Regions from separate parts of the Homo sapiens genome. Here region 1 is linked to region 2. The links come from fine-mapping of genetic effects on gene expression. A gene starts in region 2. The other region holds a variant in brackets. All regions are shown on one strand. Distances are from middle to middle. Region 1 overlaps INTS8 (integrator complex subunit 8). Region 2 holds the start of INTS8 (integrator complex subunit 8).

Region 1 (8,000 bases), 49 kb before region 2:
TTTTTGAAAAAGAGAATAAAGGTAGTCAACGTAAAGTTAAAAGCATCTGAACCAAAGGCTCTACACTAAAAAAAAGTACAAATACTTTTACTGCTTTAATTTTACTAAAGACAAGTAAATCTCAACAAAACTTAAGTATTGAAATAAAATAGGTTATATATTTACTTTCACTTCAAAAAGTGCTATAAAAACAAAACACAAAGCAACTAAACATCTCACTTACCAAAGTAAATATCTGCCTGGATAATTAACCAAGAATGGTTATTTGGATTTATACTGAGTGTATATCGAACTAGCTCTTTCACTGTGATTGCCACAGCTTCAAAGTCCACAGACTGGAGGCTAAAAGGAAAGACACACAACATTAATCTCTATTTTAAAAGTCAACTTTAAATTCCATGCATGTATTTATTAAAAACAAAAACTCAGCCAAGATTTAGGTGAACATAAATATAATGCTAAATACTAGGAGTAAATGTATTATAAGAACTATCAACACAACTAAGTCTAAGAAAGTGTGATGGGCTTTTTATGAGGGGTTGAAAACAATCTGATTTTTGTTCTCTTTTCTTCAGAATGTCAAAGGTAGACAAGGCTGCACCAAGAAAGTGTATTTGCCTCTTTTACAAATGTTTAAAGCATACAGAAGTAGTGAGATAAAACCCTTACCTCTGCTTAGCACAATTTATGGGCAACAAAAGAGACTCATAAAATTTCCCCAAATTATTATTATCATTTTTTTTTTTTTGAGACGGAGTCTCACTCTGTCGCCCAGGTTGGAGTGCGGTGGCACGATCTCAGCTCACTGCAACCTCCGCCTCCCGGGTTCAAGTGATTCCTCTGCCTCGGCCTCCTGAGTAGCTGGGATTACAGGCGCTCACCACCACACCCAGCTAATTTTTTTTTTTTTTTTGTATTTTTAGTAGAGACGGGGTTTCACCATGTTGGCCAGGCTGGTCTCAAACTCCTGGCCTCAGCCAATCTGCCCATCTCAGCCTCCCGGTGCTGGGGATTACAGTCCTGAGCCACCACACCTGGCCCCCAAATGATTTTTAAGTTCTGTTATCTATGAGAAGTTACATAAAAATCAAGGACTCAGACACTGACAATGTTGCCTTGTGGCCTTACATCCACCTTAAGCCTTCTTGCAAGAGTTACTGACTCCCCTCGAGATGCTTCAGGGGCCTAATGGGGTCAGGGGCTGGATGTCCAAGTATATCATATCAGTGCATCTGGCAGCCCCCAAGAATCAAGAAAAGAGTACTGTGAGCCTGGCTAAATGTGGACACCTTCAGGTACAGAGTCAGAAGATTGAACTGTGAAGAGAAAAGCGAGGCCGGCACCCAAAAAACTGCTAACTGCTCCCACCTCCTAAGAGCAGTAAAGCACAAGGGTAGAGAATACAGGCTGTGGATTCAGACGCATGGCTCTATCATTTACAAGGTGAATTTAGACAAGGTACTTCTGTTGCCCTGAGGGGTTACAGTTTACCCTAACTCACCAGAGCCCAGTACAGTGGAAAATGAATTGTGGGATTATTAGCAAATAGTCCATTATTTATTTAAATTTAAATAGTTATATAAGTTAGATTGGCTTACAATTTTACAGACATTTACAAAATGTTACAAGTGTAAGAATTCTATATATCAAGTAGTTGGTTTTAAAAACGTAATCTTCAATCCAGTGCCATTCCCACTATTCTTGGAATCAATAAAGAGTCCCACTCAGGAGAAATACTTTTCTCTAGTCAAACATTTAGTCATATTTTGTTTTCTCTGGGTCAATTTAAAGTACTTTCATCATGAAGATAATAGTTAAGCCTACTATGTACCAGTCTTTATTCTAAATATCTAGCTTAGAAAATGTATTATTTCAGGCCAGGTGCGGTGGCTCACGCCTGTAATACCAGTACTTTGGGAGGCCGAGGCAGGTGGATCACGAGGTCAGGAGATCAACATCATCCTGGCTAACATGGTGAAACCCCGTCTCTACTAAAAATACAAAAAATTAGCCAGGCATGGTGGTGGGCGCCTGTAGCCCCAGCTACTTGGGAGGCTGAGGCAGGAGAATGGCGTGAACCCGGGAGGCAGAGCTTGCAGTGAGCCAAGATCGCGCTACTGCACTCCAGCCTGGGTGACATAGCAAGACTCCATCTCAAAAAAAAAAAATAAATAAATAAAAATATATTATTTCATCCTCACAATTCTTAGGCAGGTACTATTTTAGAGATGGGGAACATGGCACAGAAACCAACTTATTGAAGGTCATATACCTCTAAGTGAAAAGGCTGGGGCTCAAACCCCGTGAGTCTGACCCAGAGCCCCTAGGGTAAACAATTCTTTTGCCTCATTTACAAACACGCTGGAAACCAATCATTACAGTCTAAACTTAGGCCACAGAGGTAATACTACAGAGGCTAAAAAACACAACCATTAGGTGGGGCGCAGTGGCTCATGCCTGTAATCCCAGCACTTTGGGAGGCCGAGGTAGGCAGATCACAAGGTCAGGAGTTTGAGACCAGCCTGACCAACATGGTGAAACCTCATCTCTACTAAAAATACAAAAATTAGCTGTGTTTGGTGGCACGTGCCTGTAACACCAGCTACTCAGGAGGCTGAGGCAGGAGAATTGCTTGAACCCGGGAGGCGGAGGTTGCAGTGAGCTGAGATCATGCCACTGCACTCCAGCCTGGGCAACAGAGCAAGACTCCGTCTCAAAAAATAAAAATAAAAATAAGTAAATAAATAAATAAAAATAAAAATTAGCCAGGTGTGGTGGCACACGCCTGTAGTAATTGCTCAAACCTGGAAGGTGGAGGTTGCAGTAAGCCGAGATCGTACCATTGCACTCCAGCTTGGGTAACAGAGTGAGACTTTGTCTCAAAAAAACCCCCAAAAAACAAAAACACAACCACTGAAACCACCAATTAAAAAATGCAAAACTGGGCTGGCCGTGGTGGCTCACGCCTGTTAATCCCAGCACTTTGGGAGGCTGAGGTGTGCAGATCACCTGAGGTCAGGAGTTTGGGACCAGCCTGACCAACATGAAGAAACCTGTCTCTACTAAAAATACAAAATTTACCCAGTGTGGTGGCACATGCTTGTAATCCCAGGTACTCGGGAGCCTGAGGCAGGAGAATTGCTTGAACCAGGGAGGCAGAGGTTGTGGAGAGCCGAGATTGCGCCACTGCACTCCAGCCTGGGCAACAAAAGCAAAACTCTGCCTCAAAAAAAAAAAAAAAAAAATCCAAAACTGGGTGGGCATGGTGGCTCACGCCTATAATTCCAGAGCTCTAGGAGGCCAAGGTGGGCAGATCTCTAGAGGCTAGGGGTTCAAGACCAGCCTGGGAAACAGGGTGAAACCCTGTCTCTACTAAAAATACAAATAAATAGCTGGGGGTGGTGGCATGCACCTGTAATCCCAGATACTTGGCAGGCTGAGGCATGAGAATCGCTTGAACCTTGCAGGCGTAGGTTGCAGTGAGCTGAGACCTCACCACTGCACTCCAGCCTGGGCGACAAAGCAACGTGATGTCTAAAAAAAAAGAAAAGAAAAGAGAAAAGAAAAGAAAAGAAAAACTGTCTCTACCTGATTCTTGAATTGGTATCTAACAACAGATTTTATATAAAAATCAGGAACACAGGATGACGGACTCTGCAGTTCAAATGCTGTGGAGCATGCACATGTGCTTCATGCAGCATGGTGCTCCCTTGGGAAACAAGCCTCAGTAAGTGGAGGGCAGGGGCACTCACCTGCTCTGACCCTCCAAATCCCTGGATGAGACAGAGAGCTTTTCCAATCTCTAAGATTGAGACGGAAACAAATTCTTTACTATTATTCTATTATCAGCTTGTCTATGTACCGAAATCTTTTCTTCTTCAAAGATGCCACTAAGAGTAATAACATAAGGCTTGGACAAGCACAAACTAAGAAGACTGAGAGGGAGGGCAGGGAGGAAAAACATCTGTGAGGAAACAAGTTGAT[T/C]CCCCTACATGAGAAGTGCTATGTGTGGGAAAAGAAAAATGTACATGATTTCTTCAAGTAAATGAACCCTTTTTCCTCCCCTAAAAAAAGTCCCCATCATCTTACTGTGATTCTCAGGTAGTGCATGCAAAAGGGAATATTTCTCAAAGTAATTAAAGAAGTTTAGTTTAGTTCCTACAGCAACTAAAAGAGATTGGGAGCCTTTTGATAACTGCAGCATTAGATGAGACATACAAAAAATTATGAAAAAAGAAATCACTTTCAAATAGATACTTGTAAAAGAAATAAGATGCTGGAAACCTGATAGAAAGTCATTCTTTCATTGGCCCCAATTTTCCAATTCTACTGAAAATCAGGACCACTTATATCTTCTGTTCCAAGGCTGATAAATCTTAACTCCTACTTAAGAGTTATGCTGGGCCAGGTGTGGTAGCTCCTGCCTGTAATCCCAGCACTTTGGGAGGCTGAGGTGGGCAGATCACTTGAGGTCAGGAGTTTGAGACCAGCCTGGCCAACATGGCAAAACCATGTGTCTACTAAAAATACAAAAATTAGCCAGGCGTGGTGGTGGGTGCCTGTAATCCCAGCTATTTGGGAGGCTGAGGCATGAGAATTGCTTGAGCCCAAGAGGCAGAGATTGCAGTGAGCAGAGATTGTACCACTGCATTCCAGCCTGGGCAACAGAGTGAGACTCTGCCTCAAAAAAAAAAAAAAAAAAAAGGGTTATGCCTTATCCACAATTTACAGGAAGATAATTATCATTATCATAATAGAGAAACACAAAGACTGTAGAATCTTAGATTTCTGGCCCTTTAATAAAATTATCTAAGGGTATCTATACTAGTCAGAATGGTTTCCAAATACATAACTCAATTAATAAAATAAAAGCTATACCACTACTTACTTGGGAATGGAAGATGGCCAAATAGAAATGTGTTCAGCTGTAATATCATTCACAATGTCCTCCTTTAAAAAGAAAAAAAAAGGTGTGATTTACAAAGAAATTTCTTTTAAATTTTTCTAAATGAAATTATGAAATACTTACCCGAACATTGTGAAGTTTCACAAAGAGTGATAAAATAATAGTCAAAACGAGTGGTTCCTATGAGAAAGAAAACACAGAATCCTTAAACAGTGTATGTATATTTATTTAATATTGCTCCTGTCAACCTCACAGACATCAAGCATTCTAAAAGACCCTTGCCTTTTGAAAATGTAGCATCTGTTTTAGCATGTGCTTTAGCACACTAAAAATCAACTTTTTAATCGCATGTGGGGGCGGGGCGTGGACCATAGCACATAATTTACATAAAATTAGCATAAATGTTTGGCTTATGGTGCTATCTCCACGCTCAACTCCTCACATGACTCTCAAGTAACTTTTTATCCCTTAAAATAATGTTCAAAGAGTGAAACCTAGGTTACGTCCAATAAGTAAATATGACATTGATCCTACTAAGCAAAAATTAAAGCCAGGCTTCACACATCTAGCCCCTATTATGAAGACTTCTTTACAATTTAAAGAAATACCTGCTCCGTTCACTAAAACATGGTAAAGTAAATGCAATACAAACTTTTCCAGTCAGAATATCCCACCCACCAATAATGATCACTGAAGAAAAGCACATTAACAGGTCACTTTAATAATTTAACCAGAGGCCAGGCAAGGTGGCTAACACCTGTAATCCCAGCACTGTGAGGGGCCAAGAAGGGATGATAATTTGAGACCAGGAGTTAGAAACTAGCCTGGGCAACAAGGGGAGACCTCATCTCTACAAAAAATTAGCTGGGCATGGTTACATGTGCCTGTAGTCCCAGTTCCTCAGAAAGCTGAGGCAGGAGGACTGCTTAACCTCAAGAATTAGAAGACGCAGTGAGTTACAATCACACCTCAGCACTCCAGCTTGGGTGACAGATCAAGACCCTGTCCCTTAAAAAAAAATTAAAAAACAAATAATAATTTAGTCAGTATTTGAAGTACCCAATAATTTTTAGTCATATTCTACAAAAACCAGCAATAGTAATTAGAGCAATTTTTAATAAAACTTACTCGTAATTTTTTGATAAAAGAAAGCAGTTCACTCCTACAAAACAAAAATTTTTGAATACACATTTAATATTAGAAATAAAAAATAAAATCAAGAAAGTAAATTATAGGTGAAGGTTTATTCTTAATGCTCCAATTCTGCAAGTGTGAAAAGGAATGTAATATTCTACTGTTATACTAACCTAATAACATTTCTTCCCTGTTTTAATCACATGTGAAGTCTTCAATACTATCCAACCTTAAATACTACTGATTTTGAATTCCAGTTGATTAAATGATTAATAGTTTCTTAAAATGACATATAAACAAAAGATCTTTCCAAAGGTGGCCAAGGCAGACAGGTTCATCACAGGTGAGTACTACAGAACTCGTAAGATTGTCCAACTTTATGATATACAGAATAAAAGCTGATGTTCTTGAAATCAACCTTTAATAGGTTAATAGTATAAATAGGATAAATATTAAGAACTCAAACACAACTAATAGAAACGTACCAATACATACCGATACATGATACCTAACGTAGATTCCCTCTGTTTTATTAAACTAACTCTGCCATCATTTCCTCGTTTGTGCTGACTGGACACACTACAGATTTGAACAACAACTTCCCAAAGGTCTTTGGCAGTCCGTCTACTTTCTTTAGGGCCTGGAAGTTCTTTGCATGTAGCTGCTAAAAGCTGTCCAAGCTATAACATGAAAAACAAAATACACAAAAGATAATCTGTAATGTCGTGCACATTAGTTCTATTATCAAGGCACACTGGAGGAAAGATGGAATGACTGCCCAAACATACTAAGCACAGTTATTTTATGCTGTGCATTCTGTACAACCTTTGAGGAATTTAGGGCTCATTGCGTACTGACAGATCTGAATCTGAGAAAGATCCTCTGGTTCGAGCATACGAACTTTGTTTCTGAACAGTTATAGTCTAATGAAAACGAAAATGAGACAACGCAAAGAGATAGGTGATTTATTAAGTGGAAAAAAAAACGAGTTGCTAAATACACATAGTATGATCCCACGTTACATAGGGAAAAAAAAGTGTAATGGAAGGCATACACCAAGATGTTAACTGTGGTAAAAGCCCAGGGGGTGAGGTTAAAATAGTGCTCAGATCTCTCTCTCTCCCACGTGCAAATACACACACATACAACTTTTAATCACTAAAAAAAAAAATTGTTTCAACGAAAAAAATAAGGAAAGGAATAAGGAAACTGAAGTTGGCAGAATTAAGGGATATAGATTTAAAGCAATTTTTCTCTAAGAAAATTGGTAGCAACTGGGAATGGAGCTACTGCTCTTCTGAGGAGGTAGAATTAAGGCAGGACAGGTTACACAAAGTGACTGGTATGAATAAAGGCAGCCTCAATGACCTAGGATGTAGGGAGGACCCAGAAATAAAGAGTGGGAAAGCTAAAAGCAAAAGACAGGGAAAGATTGACTTACAATAAATTCAGAATTTCTTTTATTTTCTTTTCTTTTTGGAGGCAGGGTCTTGCTCTGCACCCAGGCTGGAATGCAGTGGTATAATCTTGGCTCACTGCAACCTCCGCCTCCCAGGCTCAAACGATTTTTGTGCCTCAGCCTCCTGAGTAGCTGGAATTACAGGCATGTGTCACCATGCCCGGCTAATTTCTGTATTTTTAGTAGAGACGGGGTTTCACCATGTTGGCCAGGCTGGTCTCGAACTCCTGGCCTCAAGTGATCTATCCGCCTCGGCCTCCCAAAGTGCTGAGATTACAGGCTTGAGCCACAGCATCTGGCCAAATTCAGAACTGGGCCCCTTTACCCTTGTTCATATTAACTTTTATACTCCATCGCTCTTGTAGAGGGTGCAGTAGCAAGGATAATTTCAAATCCATCAGGAACCCCTGGTTTCTACTTAAAATGGACCTAGGGGTCCCTACTGCTTAAGGCGGCTTTTTTAAGGAGGTGGCAAGATTGTGACAAGGACAAAAATTGGTG
Region 2 (16,189 bases):
TTAATTGACACATGGTAAATCCTGCATAAGTCATCCACATTTTTATCAGATTGCTTTTCATCTATGCAGTCACAAATTTTCTCCACCATTAGACTCACAGTTCCCCAGATTTGAAAAATCCCTGCAGCAGAATGGGTCCATTAAAAGAATATCCTTGAAAGCCACAGTGCAATAAAACAGAGGTTGCCCAACGCCTTCTGAGTTTATGAAAACATTTACCATCTATTATAGAGAAGTACAGCCATGGCAGTGGTCGGAGGTAAAGTGGCCAGATCCATGTCTACATGCTTTGTCCCAGGAGGAACTTTACTGATGCAGAGTAGTTCATTTAGTAGCATATTCAATACTGGAACAGACAAACTTGAAGAAGCAAAACGTACATGTTTGCACATTAATTGTGAAAGAAACACAAAATACATACAAAATTCCATATCCTCGCTGAAAATACCTACATTGTTAAGGAACCACATCTCTGGGTTTAGCTATCAAATGTGAAAAAGTTTTTTTTTCTTTTTTTTGAGACAGAGTCTCGCTCTGTCGCCCAGGCTGGAGTGCAGTGGCACAATCTTGGCTCACTGCAAGCTCCGCCTCCCGGGTTCATGCCATTCTCCTGCCTGAGCCTCCTGAGTAGCTGGGATTACAGGCGCCCGCCACCATGCCCAGCTAATTTTTTGTGTTTTTAGTAGAGACGGGGTTTCACCATGTTAGCCAGGATGGTCTCCATCTCCTGACCTTGTGATCTGCCTGCCTCAGCCTCCCACAGTGCTGGGATTACAGGCGTGAGCCACCGTGCCCGGCTTAAATGCGAAAAGATTTTTAAAACTTTTTATTATGAAAAAACGTAAAACATAAAAGTAGACAGGATATAATGAACCCCTATGTACCATCATCTAGCAATTATCACCTGATGGCCAATCTTACTTCATCTCTATTCTTCCCCACTTCCCAAATCATTTCGTCCATAAATATTTCAGAATATATTTCAAAAAATTAACTCTTAACATAATCACAATATTAATTTCACATCTAAAAAACTTAGACTTGCTTACTGTCAAACAGCCTATCAGTGTTCAATTTTCCAGCTGCCTCATATATGTCATACTTCTTTGTACCCATTGCTATCTGTTGATGTCTCTTCAGTCTATAACGTATAGCTTCCCCTGCTCAGATTAAAAATACACTTTATGGTGGCGGGCGCCTGCAGTCCCAGCTACTCGGGAGGCTGAGGCAGGAGAATGGCGTCAACCCAGGAGGCGGAGCTTGCAGTGAGCGAATATCGCGCCACTGCACTCCAGCCTGGGTGACAGAGCGAGACTCCGTCTCAAAAAAAAAAAAAATTCACTTTAAAAATTCTAATATTTAATGCTGAAGAATGTGGTTAAAAAGAGGGTTTTTGAATACTACTGGTGAGAATATAAACTCTTTTGGAATGCAATCCAGCAATATTCATGTGTCTTAACAATGTTTATACTGCACGATCCAGCAATTTAAGGAGCTATCCTAAGAATACAACTCAAAATACAGATAAACTTATTTTATGGGCAAAGATATTTAAGGCCCTGTGATTTATATCAGTGAAAAACTAGAAATAAACTAAATGACTGTCAATTAAGGAACAGTTAATAAATTACCCATACAACGGAATTCTCTCCAAAAAATAAAAAAGGGGAAATGCTCATGATACAGCTAGGTGAAAAAACCAGGAATAAAAACAGTATATAGGGTATGATCACAACTTTAAGCCTATGGAGAACAAAGAAAAAAAATTACATGAAAATGTCAAAAAAAACCCCTCTCCTCCCCAATTATTTCCTATTTTTTAAATTTTTCCCAACTTCCTATAAGGGATGTTTTAAATTGTGATGAGAAGGGGATGATAATAAATCATTTTCTAATAAAAGGCTTGAAATTATTTATATTTAAGCAAATAAGCACTGACTCTAATCAGCTGTTTTAATAGGAGATAGTGATTTATGACCAGTAAAATCAACTCAATTATTCAACAGCAAATCATTCATATTACACAACATCTATCATTAATTTTTATTCATTTTCTTCAGATATGTAAAAGTCACTTGAGAAATTTACAACAGTTTAGGTGTGGATTTTCTCTAGTTACCACATCAAAAGTAATGTTATACTTGCATATTTTATCAAGAATATATAATATTTATTTTATTATTTTTTTTTTTTTTCCGAGTCTTACTCTATCGCCCAGGCTGGAGTGCAGTAGCGCCATCTCGGCTCACTGCAACCTCAGCCTCCCGGGTTCAAGCGATTCTCGTGCCTCAGCCTCCCAAGTAGCTGAAATTACAGGCGCCCGCCACCATGCCCGGCTAGAGACGAGGTTTCACCATGATGGCCAGGCTGGTCTCAAACTCCTGACCTCAAGTAATCTGCCAGCCTTGGCCCCCAAAGTGCCGGGATTATTATAGGCGTGAGCCACGGCGCCCAGCACGTAATTTTTAAGAGCCGATATCATAAAAGCATATATAGAAATAAACCAAGATATCTAAATAGCACTTCAAATGAAATTTCACTGAAATCTTGGATACCTTTTCTCTAATATGTCTAAGTCCCACTTCAAATGTGCAGCAACTTTAAGAGCAAGTAGTTTTAAAATACGATTTCTCTTGTTATCAGGCGGAGGTTGAACTTGGTTTTGTTCATTAACTGAAGGTTTGGAAGCCTGTTCCAAAAACTGAACTATAAGTTGAACTGGTGCAGGATCTAGGGTTTAAAAGAAAATAAATTCTTAAATTTAAGTTTTAATTATGTAGATACAAAAGGATTCACTATTGGTTTGGTTTTTTTGGGGGGGTGGGTGGGGGGGGGGGGAGTTTGGGTTTTTTTTTTGCCACAAAAGGAATCCAAACAGCTGCGCTGTTAAAATGACTAAGGAATACGTATGTAAGAAGTGTGCCTGGGGGTTAAAGGAGATGCGGAAGAGTGGTAAGGAGGAAGGGTAACAGATTAGAGTGGAAGAAAGCAAAAAAAAGCACCTTACGGGGAAGAACATAACAGTCATAGATTTCTGGTTCTGCAAATAACCACTGCCAATTAGAAGAATGAGATATAAATATTAGAACTATTATTTTGACACTTAATTAGGGGGACCTCCATCAAGTGACCTCTCCGTACCTGCTTCTTCCAATGCAAAATAGAGGATCATTTTGAAGATTAAATTAAAGGAGGTAACGGATGTGAGCAATTAAGCACAGTGCATGGCACCCGGAAAGCACTCAACAAATTATCTTTCAAAAGGAATGAATTAAGGGCATTATACAGGTGCCAAAACTGCCTAAGTACACTAACTTCTTACACAGTGGTCTCTATCAGTGAAGGCCAGTCTGAGACTGAACAAGCCATATCTAGATTTGAATTTAGAGAAATGCTATCCGAGGAACTTACCTTTTTGTGCCAATACCTTTTTTGAGAATGCCTGGAGTTTTCCTCCTCCCCCATCAATCACACCCATTTAACTGGGCTATTAATCATTATCATCACTATACAAAGCCATCTTGCAAATGTGCAGCAGTTCCTACTTTCAAAGATTTTCTTTTAACTTACAGCCCAACTTTGGAATAAGAGTCAATAAAATTCCCTCACTGAAGAAAAAAATGTTTAAATAAAACCTAAGATAATAACTAGCGTCACGATCAACACCCAACAGCTGGTTTCTCCCCAGCTCCCTGAATTTATTCAGCTTGGGGTTGAAGGAGGCGTCTGGTCAGCCTCCCCGACCCAAGCAACCACAAGACCCGCCTCGCAGCCTCTAAAACCCCAACAGTAAAAAGGTAAATCGTAAAAAGGACCAAAGGGTTTAGGATGACAGCACCAAGCCCTCCCCTCCGGGGGTAGGAGAGCCTTTGTTTCGAGCTTTTCTTTGACCCTCCACCCGGGCATGTTTAAGGGAAGCGAGGAGCCCGGCCGGAGCTGGGCTCCTGTGCGCGCCTCCCAGGCCGCAGCTTCGGTGACCGAGAAGGCGGGGAGCGGAGGGAAGCTGGGCGGACAGCGCCGGTGGCCGGGTCCCGCTCCCCAGGTGCAGGCGCCGCGCTCACCCGGGCAGGGCTTGCGCAGATGTTTCTCCAACAGTGACTCCTCCAGCAGAAACTCAAACCAGCAGGTCTGCGGCGGGGTGCAGGGCCGGCTGGAGGTGGCCGCCTCCCGGTCCGCCGCCTCCGCGCTCATCCTGCCCCCGCCGCCGCTACCACCAGGGCCGCTTCCCGGCTCCAACCTGACACTTGGATGCGGGCCGGTGCCTGGGGTATGCGGAACCCGGTGGGAGAGAGGCCACCCTCCGAACGTCCCGGAAACTCACACAATCCAAAATGGCGGCGCGGGCCAGCCGGAGCTGCGGTCCTGGATCCGCCTCCCCGCGCCACCGCCGCGCCTTCGGACCAATCGTTGTTCGGGTTGGAAGGAAAGGGGCGTGACTAACCTTCGAACCACGCCTCCTCCCGGTTGCCATAGGAGACGGCGCCGCATGAAGCCGGGTCGCGGGTGGGTTTTCCGTGTTCCCTGACAGTTCTCCAGCGAGAAAATGAGACAACCTCATCTAGGGTTGCAACGGGCCTCAATATTTTCGTAAAGGCGAAGCGAAGGGTTCTAGTTGTGACCCAAGCAAAGTTTATCTCCTGTGCTTTCAATTTCCCCGTTCCCATTTCTGAGATTTCCTCGCACCTGGGTCCTCTCCTCAGATGCTCCCGCCGTCCTGCCGAGAACACCAGCTTCCCACTCGCTTCCTGGACGGATGGCAGCATACGGTGAGCAGCCCTTGCTGCTAGCTCCCGATACTTAGAGCCTAGTTGATCCTTTCGATATCCCCGCTAGAGGCGCTGTTAACCCTATACATTTACCTCCGTTCTGTGATGTTCTTGTATTTTTCATTAACGATTAAAACTGAAAAAAGATGCATTCATAGATCGTGAATACAAGGCCAGCCTGACCAATATGATGAAACCCCGTCTCTACTAAAAATACAAAAATTAGCCGGGCTTGGTGGCGGACGCCTGTAATCCCAGCTGCTCAGGAGGCTGTGGCAGGAGAATCGCTTGAACCCGCGAGGCGGAGGTTGCAGTGAACCGAGATCGCTCCATTGCACTCCAGCCTGGGCAACAGAGCGAAACTCTGTCTCAAAAAAAAATTTTTTTTAAGTAGCCGGGTATGGTGACACACACCTGTGGTCCCAGCTACTCAGGAAGCTGAGGCGGGAGGATCACCTAAGCCTAAGAGATTGAGGTTGCAGTGAGCTGTGATTGTGCCGCTACACTCCAGCCTGGGCAACAGAGTGAGACCCTGTCTCACAACGAGAAAAAAAAAAAGAAAGAAAAAAAAGGAAATCAGTACAGATTAACTTGACATTTTGACATTTGTATTACATATGTAAAAATAAGTTTTAATTAAGGAAGAGTTCATTATTCCACTACCATCTAATACAATAACAACATTATATATTTCAAGTCCCAAGGTGTTTTATTTAGACTCAAAAATGTCTTGCCATAAAAGTGTTACAGCACTGAACTCCCCTTTTCAGAGTGGGTAATTGAATACTTGAAGGTTGACAGAGATCTTGAAGTTTATTAAACTTAGAGACCATCTCTTAGAGGGAGTCATAACTTAAGACTTCATCAACATTGGAGGAGTCTAATGAACTCAAGCTTCCAGCCAGGGACTCTTGTCCCTCTAATGCAGGGCAGGTGACCCCAAATTGGAACTTCACCCCAGAGAGTTCTTTGCTTTGTCCAGGAAAGAATTCAAGTGTGAACCAGTGGTAGAAGAGAACAGCTTTACTGAAGTGGCAGTGTTACAGCTCTGTGACTGCCCCTGCAGAGCAGGGCTAACCCACAGGCAGTGCGCTGAGAATACCAGCTCAGGGAGGTTCTGCAGGCATATTTACACCCACTTTTAATTGCATGCAGATTAAGGGGAAGTTTATGCAGAAATTTCTAGGAAAAAGGTAGTAACTTCTGGGTCATCGGGTCATTACCATAGAATGGGGTGGCAATGCCCAGGTGTTGCCATGGCAATGGTAAACCGACATGGCACACTGTTGAGCATGTCTCATGGAAAGCTGCTTCAGCCCCATCCCTGAATTTGGTCCGGTGTCCAAACCCTGACTCCAGAGTCGCATCTCACCTCCTACCTCACTTCTGAGCAGTATGTTTGGAGGGTGTCTGTCAGAAGACCCTCAAAACTACCAGTTGCTTCTGCTTTGATGCAAGACACATATCCCAGCTGTGGCCAAGTTTGCTTGCCTGGGTCTGGAGTGACACATCTTTCCCTGTCAGTGTGTGACAATCCTGGTGTGGGTTCAGTGTTCTTGAAAGGTGTCCCAGAATGTCAAAAAGCCAAGGCTTCTTCAACTTGCTATGTCTTCGGCTCTCAGAAACAACAGAGGCAAAAGAAATATTTAAAATTTTGATTTAAAAAATAATACACTTGGAAAGATACCATCAGGAAAGTGGAATGACAACCCAAAGACTAGAAGAAAATATTTGCAAATCATGTGTCTGATAAGGGACTTACATCTAGAATATGTAAAGAACTCTTACAACCCAGCAACAACACAGTGAGTAAAGGATTTGAATTGGCCAGGCACGGTGGCTCACGCCTGTAATCCCAGCACTTTGGGAGGCCGAGGTGGGTGGATCACCTGAGGTCAGGAGTTCAAGACCAGCCTGGCCAACATGGTGAAACCTCATCTCTACTAAAAATACAAAAATTAGCCTGGCATGGTGGCGGGCACCTGTAATCCCAGCTACTTGAGAGGCTGAGGCAGGAGAATTGCTTGAACCCACGAGGCAGAGGTTGCAGTAAGCTGAGATTGTGCCACTGCACTCCAGCCTAGGCAACAGAGCGAGACTCCGACAGAGCGAGACTCCATCTCAAAACAAAAAAAAAAAAAAAAAAAAAAGGATTTGAATTGATCATTCTCCAAAGAAGATATTACAAATGGGCAATATGCACATGAAAATGCTCAATATCATTAGTCGTTAAAGAAACACAAATCATCGGCCAGGTGCGGTGGCTCACGCCTGTGATTTCATCACTTTAGGAGGCCGAGGTGGGTGGATCACAAGGTCAGGAGTTCAAGACCAGCCTGGCCAAGATGGTGAAACCCTGTCTTTACTAAAAATACAAAAATTAGCCGGGCATGGTGGTGATGCGTCTGTAATCCCAGCTACTCGGGAGGCTGAGACAGAGAATCACTTGAACCCAGGAGGTGGAGGTTGCAATGAGCTGAGATCATGCCACTGCACTCCAGCCTGGGTGACAGAGTGAGACTGTCTCAAAAAAAAAAAAAAAAAGGAAAGAAAAGAAAAGAAACGCAAATCACTAGCCTGGGCAACAACGTGAGACCCCATCTCTACAAAAAACACAAAAATTAGCCAGGCATGGCGATACATGCCTGTGGTCCCAGCTACCCTGGGAGACTGAGGTGGGAGGATGGCTTGAGCCTGGGAAGCAGGCTGCAGTGAGCTATGATTATGCCACTGCACTCTGGGCTGGGTGACAGAGCGAGACTTTGTCTCAAATAAATACATAAATAAATAAAGCAAAACAAAACTGTGTGAAATACCACTTCACACCCACTAAAATGGCTATGATCAAAAAGACAAAAATAAGTATTGGTGATGATATGAAATTAGAACCTCCATACATGTCAAATGTAAAATGCTACAGCCACTTTTGAAACCAGTTTGGCAGTTTCTCAAAATGTTAAAAATAGGCCGGGCACGGTGGGTCACGCCTGTAATCCCAGCACTTTGGGAGGCCGAGGCGGGCGGATCACCTGAGGTCAGGAGTTCGAGACCAGCCTGACCAACATGGAGAAACCCCATCTCTACTAAAAAATACAAAATTAGCTGGGCTTGGTGGCACATGCCTGTAATCCCAGCTACTCAGGAGGCTGAGGCAGGAGAATCGCTTGAACCCGGGAGGCAGAGGTTGCGGTGAGCCGAGATCGCGCCATTGCACTCCAGCTTAGGCGACAAGAATGAAACTCTGTCTCAAAAAAAAAAAAATGTTAAAAATAGGCTTACCAGATGACTCAGCAATTCCCCTTCTAGGTATGTATCCAAGAGAAAGGAGAAAATGTACCCACACAAAGACTTGAATGTTTAGAACAGCAGTATCTACAGTAGCCTAAAAGTAGAAACCAAGGTCTATAACCTGGTGAATAGACAAATAAAATGTGACATACTCATTGTATCTGTTTCAAGTGGCTGCTGTAACAAATTACCACAAACTTTGTGGTTTAAAACAACAGAAACTGGCCGAGTGCAGTGGCTCACGCCTGTAATCCCAGCACTTTGGGAGGCTGAGGTGGAGAGTCCAGGAATTCAAGACGTATCTGGGCAGCATAGTGAGACTTCTGTCTCTACAAAAAAATCAAAATAAAAAATAAGGCTGGGATGGTGGTGTGCGTCTGTAGTCCTGGCTATGTGGGAAACTGAGGTGGGAGGATTGCTTGAGCCCAAGAGGATGAGGCTACAGTGAGCCGAGATTGCACCACTGCACTCAGGTGGGTGACAGAGTGAGACCCTGTCTCAAAAAAAAAAAAAAAAAGAAAAGAAAGAAAGAATGAGAACAGACTGTGGTCATTCAGACTTGGGTATTTAGCAGACATTTTCTTGAACAAAGTGAGCCTGTCATGTCACTTTATGGAAAACAACTAACACCATTTGTGGCGAATAATAACATTCAATTTTTTTTTTTTTTTTTTGAGATGGAGTTTTGCTCTTGCTGCCCAGGCTGGAGTGCAATGGTGCTATCACCGCTCACTGCAACCTCCACCTCTCAGGTTCAAGCGATTCTCCTGCCTCAGCCTCCCGAATAGCTGGGATTACAGGCACTGCCACCACCACACCTGGCTAATTTTTCTATTTTTAGTAGAGATGGGGTTTCACCATGTTGGCCAGACTGGTCTTGAACTCCTGACCTCAAGTGATCCTCCCACCTTGGCCTCCCAAAGTGCTGGGATTACAGACATGAGCCACCGCTCCTGGCCAACATTCAACTTTTTAAGTAAAATTAGAATTTTAGAAAACTGTAAACTTGGCAGCTTCCCAATACTTGACAAGACTTTTCTGATGACACCAATGGCGATATTAACAAATGTATATTTAAATGTGTCAACTTTCAGATGATCATCACAACTTGACAAATCAATCAATATTTTCCTAATATATGGCTAAAAGATTTATTTAAATTCCAAGACAAGCCGAGCACAGTGGCTCATGCCTGTAATCCCAACACTTTGGGAGGCAGGGGCAGGATGATCACTTGAAACCAGGAGTTGGAGACTGCAGCGAGCTATGATCATGCCACTGTACTCCAGTCTGGGTGACAGAGCGAGACCCTGCCTCTTAAAAGTAAATAAATAAAAAATTTCAGCTGGGCACGGTGGCTCATGCCTGTAATCCCAGCACTTTGGGAGGCCGAGGTGGGAGGATGACGAGGTCAGGAGTTTGGACCAGCCTGGCCAACGTGATCAAACCCTGTCTCTATTAAAAATACAAAAATTAGCTGGCATGGTGGCAGGTGCCTGTAATCCTAGCTACTCAGGAGTCTGAAGCAGGAGAATAGCTTGAACCCGGGAGGCAGAGGTTGCAGTGAGCAGAAATCGCATCACTGTACTCCAGCCTGGGCGACAGAGCAAGACTCCATCTCAAAACAAAACAAAACAAAAAATTTCAAGACAGACTGATGAATTGTAATGGAACGGAATTTGAAAAGTTAATTGGTATGATTTCAGATTTAAAATTGCAGCTAATCTTTAAGAAACAACCACTTTCTCAGGTTTTGGTGAAGAAAGTCCATAATTATCCGAAAAGATATAAAATACTTCTTTTTTTAACTACTCATCTATGTGAGCAATGCCACTCTTCTAGTTTTTAAAATGAAAATAGTTATTTTATATAAAATTGTATTTGTCAGCATGTAATAGGATTATTTTTATTTTTATATGATTATTTTATTTTAATTTAAATAAATTAAATATTTTTAAAACTTCTCAGTGTTAATTTTTAATATGGTAAATATAAACAAACACTCTTTTAAGTGCTTAATAATTTTTTGGTCTAACAGGGCCCTGAGACTAAAAAATCTGAGAAACTATTTTATTGAGGCATGCACATCAAAATCCTACTGTGTTTGGCTCTGAAGAGAAGAGGGAAGGAGGATAGAACAGGGGTGGGTTAGAGAAGGGGAGAGGAGAGGTGAATGGGGGGAAGGAGTGGGGGAGGGGGGTCACAGGTACTTCAACTTTATCTGTATTTTTTTTTTTTGAGACAGAGTCTTGCTCTGTTGCCCAGGCTGGAGTGCAATGGTGCGCTCTTGGCTCGCTGCAACCTCCACCTCCCAGGTTCAAGTGATTCTCCTACCTCAGCCTCCAGAGTAGCTGGGATTACAGGCACGCCACCATGCCTGGCTAATTTTTGTATTTTTAGTAGAGACAGGTTACACTATGTCGACCGGGCTGGTCTCGAACTCCTGACCTCAGGTGATCTACCCGCCTCAGCCTCCCAAAGTGCTGGGATTACAGACGTGAGCCACCGCACCCCGTTCTGGTTTTTGTTTGTTTGTTTTGTGATGGTATCTCTCTGTTGCCCAGGCTGGAGTGCAGTGGCATTTAGCTCACTGCCTCCTTGACATCCTGGGTTCAAGTGATCCTTCTGCCTCAGCCTCCTGAGTAGCTGGGACCACAGATGAATACCACCATGCCCAGCTAATTTATTTATTTTTTTGCAGAGATAGGGTCTTGCTATGTTGCCCACCCAGGCTGATCTGGAGCTCTTGGGCTCCAGTGATCCTCCCACGTTGGCCTCCCAAAGTGCTGGAATTACAGGTGTAAGCCACTGTGCCCAGCCATATATAGATGCTTTTAAAGTCCCTGATATTTCCTCAAAACCCATGAAAAATTCTATGGGCTCATAGAAACAAACTATTATGGAGCATTTGTTACATACCATGACCCAAATTAGGGCCTTTATATCCTCGTTTTCTCATTTGATCTTTCAACATCCTAGAAAGTAGGAATTATGAGCTCACCTTACAGCTGAAGAAGCTGAGGATCAGAGAAGTTATTGTTCTTAATTTTTTTTCTGTGGATTTACAACTATTTAAAAAACAAAAAATCAATAGCACACAAATTTGGTGGAACTTTTATTATAATTGCACCAAATCTATAGATAAACTTGATAATACAGTAATGAGACTCCTTATCTAGGAGCAGAATAAGTAGATCAGTAGCTTCGTCAAAGTCTCCCAGAGAATAAATGTTAGAACCAGGGTTTGGTCCCTGATATGACCTTCGTTAAATTGAACCACTGCTATGGTCTGAATGTTTGTGTTCCCCCCACATTCATGTGTTGAAAACTAGACCATGCATGGTGGCTCACGCCTGTAATCCCAGCACTTTGGGAGGCCGAGGCGGGCGGATCACCTGAGGTAAGGAGTTCAAGACCAGCCTGGCCAACATGGTGAAACCCTGTCTACTAAAAATACAACTATCAGCCAGGCGTGGGCATGGGCGCCTGTAATCCCAGCTACTTGGGAGGCTGAGTAATGAGAATCGCTTGAACCCAGGAGGCGGACGTTGCAGTGAGCCGAAATCGCACCACTGCACTTTTGCCTGGGCGACAAGAGCGAGATTCCATCTCAAAAAAAAAAAAAAAAAAAAGAAAAGAAAAGAAAAGAAAAAGGAAAGCAAACTAACCCCCAAGGTTAGAAGGGAGGGGCCTCCTTTGGGAAGTGATTAGATCATGAGGGCAAGATCGCATGTGGAAGACCTATATGAAGAAAATAATAAAAATGTTATTCAAAAACATGAAGGATCTAAATAAATGGAGAGAAAAATTCTGCTCCTAGAGAGGGAGGCTGATTACTGTATTCTCAAATTTATCTACAGATTCAGTGAAATGATAATAAAAGTTCCATCAAATTTGTATGCTATTTGTTTATTTACTTATTTATTATTTTTTTAAGACAGAGTCTTGCTCTGTCACCCAGGCTGGAGTGCAGTGGCACAATCTCGGCTCACTGCAACCTCTGCCTCCCAGGTTCAAGCAATTCTCCTGCCTCAGCCTCCCAAGTAGCTGGGACTAACCACCACGCCCAGCTAATTTTTGTATTTGAGTAGAGATGGGGTTTCACCATGTTGGACAGGCTAGTCTCAAGCTCCTAACCTCAGGTCATCCGCCCTCTTCGGCCTCCCAAAGTGCTGGGATTACAGGCGAGGGCCACTGTGTCCAGCCGGTTTTTTTGTTTGTTTTTAAAAATAGTTGTAAATACATGAAAAAAATTTAAGAACAGTATAAAGAACTCTCCTATCCCCTTCACCCAAATGTGTCCATTGTTAATATTTTACCATACTTCCTCTCACCCTCTCTCCACAACAGCTCCCTACTTCCTTGTATACTGGGTAGAGTGACCAACTCTCTTAGTCCATTTTGTGCTGCTATAATGGAATACCTGAGACTGGGTAATTTCTAAGGAACAGAAATTTATTTCTCACATTTCTAGAGGCTGGGAAGTCCAAGATCAAGGTTTAGCCTCTGGTTCTGAGATGTCACCTTGTTGCTGCATCCTACAGAGAGGACTGCTGTGTCCTCACACAGCAGAAAGGCAGAAGAACAAGGGAGAACGAACCACTCCTGCAAGCCCTTTTTTATGGCAGCATTCATACTTTATGAGGGCAGAGTCCTCACGACCTAAACACCTCCCAAAAGGCCTCACCTCCCAATACTGTTGCATAAGAATAATTATGTTTCCAACACATTAATTTTGGAGGAGGCAAAAACATTAAAACCATAGCACCAACTCATCCCCGCTTGGCCAGGACTATGTCAGTTTTAAAACTGAAAGTCCTGCATTCCGGTAACCCCTCAGTGTGGGCACACTCTAACCCCAGGCACACCACCTGTGCAACCACACCCCTCACCTTGTCCCCATCTGCTTGGATACTGCGTGCTGACATCTCCACATGGAGAAGATGAGAAAGGAAGCTTGTAGTTAATTATCAATTAGTCAAACAGCCTGGAAAATGTCACAAGGCCTGAAATGTTCTAGAGTGTTTAGCTTCAGATCAAGGAAAAATTCACAAATGAGGTGGTAGCAGATTTAGTAACATCATAAGAATAAGTGAAATTCTGGCAAACCCCTTTTATAGTGATAATTATGTATTTGCAGGGCCCCTGGCAAGGTTCATATGCTGTATATGTTTACCAGTTACCATCAAGTAGAAGTTTCTGTTTTATGTTGATCATAAACCACAGTATCTAGTCCTGCTCTCCTCCTTCATGATAGTTTAAAATGTTTTCTTTTACATCCTCCCTGCTTCCTTGTTATTCTGGTAGCTCAGAGACTCGTTGCCTCTGAAATCTGGGTCTCTACAAAGTACAGCAAACTAGATGAGCTACAGTGAAAAAATAAAAATAAAAAAGCAGAGATATTATACAGTCTAAGGATGAAAATTATTTTCACCAAGGACTTCTGAAAATCACATAAATAAAAAAATAAACTAGGACGGGCACGGTGGCTCACGCCTATAATCCCAGCACTTTGGGAGGCTGAGGCGGGTGGATCACCTAAGGTCGGGAGTTCGAGACCAGCCTGGCCAACATGGTGAAACCTCATTTCTACTAAAAAATAAAAAAATTAGCTGGGGGAGGTGGCGCACGCCTGTAATCCCAGCAAATCGGGAGGCTGAGGCAGGAGAATCGCCTGAACCCAGGAGGCAGAGGTTGCAGTGAGCCGAGATCGCGCCGCTGCACTCCAGCCTGGGCAACAGAGACAGACTCTCTCTCGAAACAAACAAAAAACTTGAAATCGGTTAATTTCTTTGGTATTTCTTTAAAAAAATATGCAATACAATTCAGACATAAACATACAATTTAAAACTTTATTCAATAAATATTTTTGAGGTGGGGGAAACTGGCTGATGGATTCTACTGCCATCTTGTGGCCATTAGGGATAGTGTCCATATCTACCGGTAATACCGGCTGGCTGGTATCACCTCTTCCTTATACTTTCCAGTATGGAAGAAGGAATATGACTTGAGGATTGTGATTGGAAGTAACTAATTCTTTGTACAAGCTATCCTGCAACACCTAACTGAATTACATCTTGTTAGGGACTTCCAAAAACAGATCTGTCAAGAGGTAATAAGCGAGTCCTACCAAACATGACTTTTCTCTGCGGTCTTCACTACCTCCTTGGACAGGTAGGCACCCTGTTGTATGTGGCCATAGAGCTGTGCATCCCGGTCATGGCATTCATATCACCTCCTTGCAGTTACCTATTTAACAGTCTCACTTCCCCGGTAGACTCCAAGATCTTGGAGGTGGGGGTGGGGGAGAGCAGAATGGTGGTTATACCGTTTACCTGGTACAGCCTCTAGTACACAGCAGGCACCCAGTAAATATTTGCTAAATAAATAAATCTTTTATTAAACACAAAGCACCTGCCTTTTACATGCATGCAAATGCTTCCCTATAAACCAGATCTACAAACCTTTATTTAATCTTTGCTTTATCTAACCTAAAGCATTATTAACCTGTTCTTAAGATATTTATGACTCACTCTATTGTCTAGGTTTTATAATCAGCAATAAACTTAAAGCTTGTTGGGGCTCAGAAAACGATACCCTAAAATGAAGGCCCCAGAGACATAAGTTTCTCTCTGACCCTCTCCTGACCTCCTGTCTCTGGACCATCATTCTCCCCTAAGGCTTGCCATAGAAACCAGAACCCCTTTTCCCTGGAGCTAGCCATCAAACCTAATAATATTACTCTAACTTCACCCTCCCACCCATTTTTCTGTGTAAAAACTGACATTAAAAAATTATGTGAGCTACCTTGGTTTTGGGGGTTTTGTTTGTTTGTTTGTTGCTTTTTGAGACGGGGTCTCACTCTGTCATCCAGGCTGGAGTGCAGTGGTGCAATCTTGGCTTACTGCAACCTCTGCCTCCCAGGTTCAAATGATGCTCCTGCCTCAGCCTCCCTAGTAGCTGGGACTACAGGCGCACACCACCATGCACATCTAATTTTTGTATTTTTAGTAGAGATGGGGTTTCACCATGTTAGCCAGGCTGGTCTCGAACTCCTGACCTCAGGTGATCCACCTGCCTCGGCCGCCCAAAGTGCCCAGCTATGTTGTTTGGTTATAGGTCATGAGACCCCCATTCCAGAGAGGGTGCTGCCCTGTCCCCAGTAGGAAGGAATGCTGCACTGAGAAGCCAAGAAGAATCTAGACAGACCTTGCAGGGTGTCCCCACTCAGTCTATTATGGTTAAGTCATACTCTTTTTGTCCAATTACATCTGTACATGGCTGTTCATACTTTGTTGAAACTAAGCATACAATGGACAGGTTCCCCGGTATCTTTGAGTCTTCATTCTGAAGGCTCTCATGTCACAAAAAGCTATGATCAAATAAACTTATATGCCTTTTCTTCTATTTACCTGCCTTCTGTTAGCTGATTTTCAGTGAACCTTCAGAGGATGAAGCAGAAGTTTTCCTTTACCTCTACAGCTCTTCCAAGCAGTGTCCATGTCTATACATCTGTATTTGTGTTATCCATACAGCACCTAGCTGAATGGATAACCGAATGTAGGCCTTATTCACCTAATGGAAGGAACAGGTGTGTCCTTATTGCCATGACATAGCCAGAGCAGAGGTCATTCCACTTTCATCTGGCAACCGCCTGCTACCTTCCTTTATAACCTTCTGTACAGTGATTGCTATAGTTTGGATGTTGTCCCTTCTAAATCTCATGTTGAATTATAATCCCCAGTGTTGGAGAAGGGGCCTAGTGGGAGGTAACTGGATCATGGGGGTGGATTTCTCATGAATGGTTTAGCACCATCATCTTGGTGTTGTCTTTGTAATACTGAGTGAGTTTGAGATCTGATTGTTTAAAAGTGTGTGGTACTTGGCCGGGCGCAGTGGCTCATGCCTATAATCCCAGCACTTTAGGAGGCCAAGGTGGGCAAATCACTTGAGGTCAGGAGTTCTAGTCCAGCCTTAACAACGTGATGAAACCTCCATTAAAAATACAAAATTAGCCAGCCATGGTGGCACATACCTGTAATCCCAGCTACTCGGGAGGCTGTGGTAGAGGTCGCAGTGAGCTGAGATTGCGCCACTGCACTCCAGCCTGGGTGACAGAAGGAGACTCTGTCTCA

The links. PIP is the estimated chance that this variant, and not a neighbour inherited with it, causes the effect.
Region 1: its variant is fine-mapped to the expression of INTS8 in lung (TOPMed, PIP 0.95).

Annotation. Positions count from the first base shown.
Region 1 is chr8:94,864,226-94,872,225 of GRCh38, reverse strand. INTS8 (integrator complex subunit 8) reads right to left here. Exons shown (of 27, transcript NM_017864.4): 17 at 6,536-6,720; 18 at 6,035-6,068; 19 at 5,030-5,086; 20 at 4,889-4,950; 21 at 224-342. Among named protein-coding and RNA genes, the nearest start is that of CCNE2, 27 kb to the left of the region's middle. The variant T/C (reference allele first, on the strand shown) is at 3,985.
Region 2 is chr8:94,811,434-94,827,622 of GRCh38, reverse strand. INTS8 (integrator complex subunit 8) reads right to left here and starts at 4,336. Exons shown (of 27, transcript NM_017864.4): 1 at 4,062-4,336; 2 at 2,556-2,730; 3 at 220-360. The coding sequence starts at 4,191. RefSeq lists an enhancer at 3,690-3,749 and a silencer at 3,910-4,299.